Homo sapiens: one gene and its partner. The protein of the gene in region 1 purifies or fractionates together with the protein of each later gene. This does not show direct contact. Each region holds a gene or a part of one and is shown on either strand. Other genes may lie near its edges.

Region 1 (3,500 bases):
AGTTCCACACTCTAGGGCAGTTGCTGATCTTATCTGAAGCCCTCATTGGGTGGTAAGCTCTAGACAGCAGGAGCATGATTTATACTGTGGTACTGGATTGTGTGCTTAGCAGGTGCGTGTGTGTGGCTGTGATTCAGGGGATGCTGTGGGGGTGGGCTGAGGTTTGAAATCCGGCCGTGAAAGTAGGTGAGATGCAGCCGTGCACGGATGGGCGTCGCTGCCTTAGAAGCCGACATAGGAAGAGCCAGTGATGGACTTGAGCAGGGAGCAAGAAGCGACAAACCATAGCCTGTGGCCCGTAGCTGCCCCCACTCCGTGCTTTTGTAAATACAGTTCAGTGTAACAAAAGTGAGGCTCATTCCTTACCTTGGTAGAGTTGAGAAGCTGCTACCCTAAAGCCTGCACAGCCCAGAATATTCACTACCTGGCCCTTTACCAAAGAGTTGGCCATGCCTCCCGAGGAATATAAAGGAGAGAATGGTGGAAAGTTAACTGTGAAGGGTAGGCGGAGCCATAGCAAATACCTAGGAAGACATAGGGCAGAAAACGTGCAAGATGTCTACACTGGAAACTATGAGAAACATTGAGAGAAATTAAAGAGCCAGATCTGTGCATCTAAACTGTCAGCGCATCAGACTCCCTGGAGGCTGCGTCCAACACAGACTGACAGGCCCAGCGCCTGAGAGTTTCTAATGCGGCAGGTCTGGGATCGGACCCAGGAATGTTTCTGACAAGTTCACAGATGCTGCTTCTGGTCCAGACACCACACTTTGAGAACCACACATCTAAATAAATGAAGCCATGAGCCATATTCATGGGTCAAGAAAAGATCGCAGAGACATCAGTTCTCTGCAATTTGAGAAACTTTCATGCAAATCCCGCTTAAAGTCACCACAGGGGCATGCGTGTGTTTATGTGAATATGCAAATTGACAAACTGATACTAAAATTTATGTGGAAATAAAAAAGGACTAAGAAAGCTAAACAGACTTAAGGAAGACTTTAAGAACTCCAACAAAACTGGAGGACTCTGCCAGATATCAAGACTTACTATAGAATGGGCACAGTGGCTCATGCCTACAATAACACCACTTTGGGAAGCTGAGGCCAGAGGACTGCCTGAGCCCAGGAGTTCAAGATCAGCCTGGGCCATGTAGCAAGACTTTGTCTCTACAAAAAATATATAAAAATTAGCTGGGTATGGTAGTGTTTGCCTGTAGTTCCAGCCACTGGGGAGGCTGAGGTGGGAGGATCACTTGAGCTGGGGAGACCTAGGCTGCAATGAGCTGTGATTGTACCACTGCACTGTAGACTGGGCAACAGAGTGAGACACGGTCTCCAAAAAATCAACAAAAGGCATATACAAAACATCAATATTTCATTATGTATATGCAAATATTTCAAAATGTGAAAAAATCCAGAACACTTCTTATCCCAAACATTTCCGATGAGGAGTACTCACCTGTATTATGGAGAAAAAAAAGCTCAACATCATTAGTCTTCGTGGAAATGACACTGAAAATCACAGTGAAATATGACTGCATTCCTCTCCTTCAGGGCGCTAGAGCAACCAGCCCTGCCGAAAGCAAGTGTCAGTCAGTACAACCACTTCGGAAAGCTGTGTCCACCCACCCAAGCAGACACACATCTTCAGACCCGGCGATTGTGCATAGGTTTATATCCAACAGGTACGCATTGCTTATCTTCCCTAGCAATGTTCTGCCTGCCTACCTAACCCGTGCCTAGGTATCTCTCCTTTTCCTGAGACATCCTTCTTTCAGGATTAAGCTAATAAGACCAGGCTAGCTTGAGAAATTTGCATGTGTTCTTGTGTTTTCATCCCCAAAACAACAGTGTACTATGCTTTCAACTATAGTCTCTGAAATTGTGTAGACCACAGGCTCTGTATGGGCCTGGGAGTTAGATGCTTTGGGTAGGTGGGCATTTGAATACCTCTCAGATCACAGTGTGGAAAGCATCAGACTACACCACATGGATCAGCTCTCAATCACTTCTGATAAGACAAAAAAAATACATTAGCAGGGCACAGACGTGCACCTGTAGTCCCAGCATCTCTGGAGGCTGAGGCAGGAGAACCACTTGAGCCCTGGGGGCAGAGGTTACAGCGAGTCAGGATCGCGCCACTGCACTCAACAGCCTGGCAACGGGAGTGAAACCATCCCCCCCACAAAAAAAAAAAAAAGTACAGCAGAAGCAGAGTCCACACTCATAGCATTATAGAGTCAAATAGTCTATAAGGTTTATAAAAGCATCAGTCCGCATGTACCACCTCCATTTCCTACTCAATGGGAGGCAACAGCTCTTAACTCTACCTATTTGTTATTTACCTCCACTATTGACATATTGCTATATATCCTTTGTTTTTTTCATGTGTCTGTATTAAGTATGCACAATTTCAATCTGAGACAACTCTGTTATGGTGTCGGTGTGTATGTTGCTGTGCACAGATGATAGATAAATGCTTTCTCTCACATTAGTTTTTCTGTGGTTGCTCATGGTTTCGGTTTTGCTTGCATGGTTTCCTTTGCCACCCTTGGGCTTGTTGTGAACTAGACTACTTGCTGAGCGCACAGGTGGCTTCCTGGGGAGCCCTCGTTATTCTGGGATTCCCTGCAGCTTTCTCATGTGGACGCTTCTGTTACCTGGCTCCGTGTCTTCTGTCTGGGTTTACTCCGTGTTTAGAGGAACAGCTGCCCTTCCTGACTACCCTGCAGAGGCTTCCTCAGACAGGCTGACATGGGAGATCAGATTGAAGACCTTGCATGACTTAAAAACACCTTTATTCTTCCGTAGTTCTAATTAATAATCGGATTATGTATAGGATCCTAGTTCACAATTTATCCGGGTTTTGAGCCCCCATTGTCTCCCGGCTTCTGGTGTTGCTGCTGAGAAGTCTGTTGCTGTTTTCTGATTCCTGATCTTTTGTTTGTTTAAATTGTTTGGAAGTTATTTCAAACTTAATGAAGTTATAAGAATAGTACAGAGAACTCCCACCTACGCTTTAATTAGATTCACCAATTTTTAAATTTTTTCCACATTTTAACATGCGCTCTCTCTATATACACAACACACGCACACTTTATTTTTTCTGAACCATTTGAATGTAGTTGCTACATAATGCTCCCCTCAATACTGAAGTACATTTTAAAAACAAGGATACTATTCTCTTACGTAACTTAGGCAGTTATCAAATTCTGATTTCTGAATTTTTTTTTTCTTTTTTTTTTTTTTGAGACAGAGTCTTGCTCTGTCACCCAGGCTGGAGTGCAGTGGTGCAGTCTTGGCTCACTGCAACCTCTGCCTCCCAGGTTCAAGTGATTCTCCTGCCTCGGCCTCCTAAGTAGCAGGGATTACAGGTGCACACCACCATGCCCGGCTAATTTTTGTATCTTTAGTAGAGACAGGATTTTACCATGTTGGCCAGCCTGGGCTCGAACTCTGGAGCTCGAGTGATCCACCCACCTCGGCCTCCCACAGTAC
Region 2 (4,530 bases), on another chromosome or scaffold:
TCAAAACACTTTCTTAGAAACAGCATACTCTATAATTTCTAAGGCAGAAACACGCAAATAAAAAAAATATAATATTAAAGATGGAAGGGAACTTAGAAATAACTTAGTGCAACTTCTTTGTTTTATAGAACACCTACGTCCAGGAAGTTTGTGTCTGGTTCACAGGCACAGAGCCAGACCTATAACCTCAAACACCCCAGGCCAGCCCAGTGGTCATTCTACTACACTAAGTTGCCTCTCATAAGTCATACTGAATTTTAAAACATAGTATCATATTAATAAAGATTTTTAAGGAAGGGAAAGAAACTCAACATTGATAGGATCACACTGAATTGGGGAACAACCAGTGTTTCTCAAAGGCATTCTGTGTGTAAATGCATCTTCATTGGGTTGAATTTTCCTGCACACTGCAGGATTTTAGCATTCTGATCCATGACCACAAAAATGGCAGGAGCACTTCTAAGTCATTGTGACAACCCAAATGCCATCACATTTCCAAATAACCTATAGAGGGGCAGAGAGAACTCTGTGAAGAACTGGATCTGTAGGCCAACCTTGTTTAGAACCCTAGTACCACTATCTTAGTCAATTCAGGTGCTATAGCAGAATACCACAGACTGGGTGGCTTAAACAATATTTCTCACAGTTCTGGAGACTGGGAAAGAAGTCCAAGATCAAGGGGCTGGCAGATTCGAGTCTGGTAAAGGCACTCTTCCTGGTTTCCAGAAGGCCTTCTTCTCACTGCACCCTCTCGTGGTGGAAAGAAAGTCAGAGAGCTCTCTGGGGCCTCTTTTGTAAGGGTGCGAATCTCATTCATGAGAACTCACCTTCATGACTTAATTAGGTCCCAAGGTCCCCACCGCCTAATACCATCACATTGGGGGTTAGGATTTCCACATATGAATTTTGGGGGGACACAAACATTCAGTTCATAAAAAACACTTTTAGTGACAGTTATCTCAATTACATATTTTTTAAAAATCTAAGAAAACTCAGTTTTTTCAGGGATAAGCTTGCAAAAGTCAAACTTTGACAGCAATGGATACACACATCCCCTTCTAATTTGGGAGACTTTATTTTATTAAGCTATTTGCATTTCTTATATAGTCTTAGAATGCCAGCAACATGTTCAAACGTACAATACATCTGTACCTACATAAGGTAGAGGTCATGAAAAAAGAATTTAATTTGAACATATTAACTAAAGCAACCACTTAGCGTGCTCAAAAGCCATTAATCTTCAATTTAAAAAATTAAGGTATGTGCATATGCACACATTTGCATCTGTGTGTAACTATTTTAAAATACTTACAAGATCCAGTGCTGAACCACCGCCCAGGTATTCCATTATTATCCATAATTTAGACCCCTGTAAAGCCATGAAACAATTTAATAATTACAAACCTGAGCCAAAATAACATACTAGCAAAAATGTTAAATCTCACATACTAAAGCACAGATTCTATTTGCATGTTCTCATTTATTTGTGGGAGCTAAAAATTAAAACAATTGAACCCTTGGAGATAGAGAATAGAAGGATGGTTACCAGATGCTGGGAAGGATAGTAGGGAGGGGGAGTTGGTGATGGTTAATGGGTACAAAAAGTAGTTAGAGAAAATGAGTAAGATCTAGTATTTGATAGCACAACAGGGTGACTATAGTCAATAATAATTTAATTATACTTTTAAAAATAAGTAGAAAAGTATTACCGGACTGTTTGTAACACAGAGAGTAAATGTACCCTGATGTGATCATTATACATTATATGCCTTTATTAAAATAGCTCATGTACCCCCATAAATATTTACACCTTCTTTGTAGCCACAAAAATTAAAAATTAAAAAAATAAAGAACAGATTCTAAAATGTAGGTTTAAAAATGGTTGCTTGGGAACCCCGAATATATTTTTTCCATAGAACATTCCAAATTAAAATTCTGAGCTTAGACTACCCGCATACCTTTTTGCCTATGATATAGCTAAACAAATAAAAGTACTGTTTGTTATTGTTGAACTATTAGTAATTTTTATAAAAAACAAAGCTTTAAATAATTATCTTGAATGATATTGGAAAGAAAAGATAGTTACATTAAAGAATGAGGAGGTAAATGAGGGCTTGTAGAAATTTTGGGTTTGAGTTTGAGGACAATGGATATTTTGCCTTATTTCAGTTGTTGGCTTTCATTTGTTTTGATGTACTTCAAACTTTTATCAGCTACGGTTAATGGGCATTTTTGGCACACACGGAACCTAGAAAGAATATTGTTCATTTTACCTCTGATGTAAATGGATAAGAAAAAGGGAGAGTGTAGCTTTAAAAATCTGTGCTTTCTCCAGGTGGAATTAACTTCCCTGTGAGCTGAACAAGAGGAAATGGGGCTCCTGGGAGGAATATATGTATACAAATTCTAAAACAGGTGTACACACACACATACCATTCAGTACCATCAGTTAAACACTGGAATAAACCATTAAACCCTTTTTATTTTAGCTATAGCTTAAATACAAGGGACACCTCTCTCTCCATACCATTTCATGAGTGGTATTCTCTGAATTTTTGTGGGACCAAAGAGCTGACTGGAAGTAGAATGGTTGGCTTTACTATACTGGCAGCAGCCAAGTAGTGACTGGACTGTGTTCCAAAAGTTGGTTTTTAAGTAAGATGTTCAGAATTTTAAAAGCAAGCATTTTCCCATAAAAATAATGTCTAAGTTCCTGGGGTAGTCCTCCCAAAAGACAATTTCACACAAATGTATTCATTCGTAGTATAGCATAAAAAGTACCAGAGAAACTCACTACTATTTATATCTTAACAATATTTCAAGTAGGAAAATATATTCAGCATGGTGCCTCAACTTGGGATGCCAGAAACACATTTCTCACCTTTACAACCCCAGCTGCGGGGTGAAGATTCTCAAGCTACTGCCAGTAGCCCTCAAACTCAAAAATCCCTGGGAGGTATTCAGGAGTCCAATTTAAAATTTCCAGGCATCTCCATGAGGATGTGACTTTATCAAGGCAGAGAATGGAACCCAGTGACATGATGATGAGTGCTTAGGGGATGGGAGAGGGTTGAAGAATCAGAGTGGAACTGACATTGTAGTGTGGGGAATGGGATGTGGCCTAGGGTTAGCGATCATGAAGGGAGGGCTCAGTTAATTAAGACAAAATGATTCTCCTTTCCATATGCTGACACTATGTAGAATTTGTAAGAGAAAGGGAGGAACAATATTCCCCTACCACTTCCTCCACTAATCTTGACATCCACTCTGTCCTGACATAGATGGCCAGCAGGCACTGTGAGCAGAAAGCTGAGAGTCTTGGTTAGCAGTGAAGTCTACATTAGGAAATAGAGGAAATAAATTCCCACAATACTGGTGAGGGAAGAGGAGTTCCAGGAAAGGTTCATATAACTTGTATTTGTGTATAGAACCTAGGCACTCGCAACCTGAGAATTGTGACTCTGATGTACCTTTATACTTTTTTCAAGAGAAGAAAAAAGTGGTTCTTACAATGGTGGATAGGTTAAAAATTGTTTCTTCTGCCACAAGTTTGTTTCTAACAAGTACTATACTCTATCATATGAATTCAGAGAGCTTCCCATTCACCTGACATTTAAAAGAAAAAGATCTTATAAAACATGCCTGCCTATTTTGCAGTTCTGCATGAATGAAAGCACCTGTTTTCCAAGTTAAAAACAATGTGTGCCTTTTTGTTTGTACTAATTCAAAACAGAAACTTGCCAACTGTCTGTCAGTAAAACGTGTTCATAGAAAGCTTGAAATGTGACTTTACAAAGTAGTATATACCATTAAGCATTAAAATTACAACTACTCAATTTCTAGATCTGAAAATAAGGAATCCTTATTTGTTCTGGAAATCAGTGGTGGTGAGGGCTGCACAACACGCCTGTAATCCTGGTATTTTGGGAGGCCGAGGTGGGAGGATCGCTTGAGTCCAGGAGTCTGAGAGCAGTCTAGGCAACATAGGGAGTCCTCATCTCTACAAAAAGTGCAAAAAAGTAGCCAGGTGTGGTGGCATATGCCTGTAGTCCCAGCTACTCGGGAGGCTGAGGTGGGAGGATCAATTGAACCTGGGAGGTGGAGGCTGCAGTGGGCCAAGACTGCGCCACTGTACTCCAGCTCGGGAGACAGAGTGAGACCCTGTCACAAAAAAAAAGCAAAACAAAAAAACAAAACAAAAAAAAAACCACCCAAAAAACAAACAAACAAAAAAAACACAAAATCAATGTGAATGTAGCCAATGCCAGAGAGCTGTACACTTAAAATGGCAAATTTAGTGTTAAGTATATTTTGCCTGATTAAAAAAAACATACAGCACATAAGACTTTATAAAACTGGAAGTGACAGTAGAGATCATCTTGCCAAGAATATGGCTAGAAAATTTACCACTTCTGAGTCATTTTCCTCCAGCTTGGAATGCTGTGTCCCTACCCCACTTGCACCTTCCAACCCCTATCAAAATCATTCTCAAGACTTAGTTCAAATGCTACCTCCCTAGTTTGAGGGTTA

What was found. Proteins that work in one complex are often made in the same cells at the same time.
Region 2: the proteins of PROSER2 (region 1) and STK26 purify together in Homo sapiens (affinity purification with mass spectrometry; 2 studies listed by BioGRID and IntAct, with this or other methods). This does not show direct contact.

The regions. Positions count from the first base shown.
Region 1 is NC_000010.11:11,861,356-11,864,855, forward strand, and holds part of PROSER2 (proline and serine-rich protein 2), read left to right. Parts: exon of another isoform or gene 1-52; intron 53-1,461; exon of another isoform or gene 1,462-1,687; intron 1,688-3,500.
Region 2 is NC_000023.11:132,060,272-132,064,801, reverse strand, and holds part of STK26 (serine/threonine-protein kinase 26), read right to left. Parts: intron 1,370-4,530; coding exon 1,313-1,369; intron 1-1,312. UniProt on the Homo sapiens protein: Serine/threonine-protein kinase that acts as a mediator of cell growth. Modulates apoptosis. In association with STK24 negatively regulates Golgi reorientation in polarized cell migration upon RHO activation.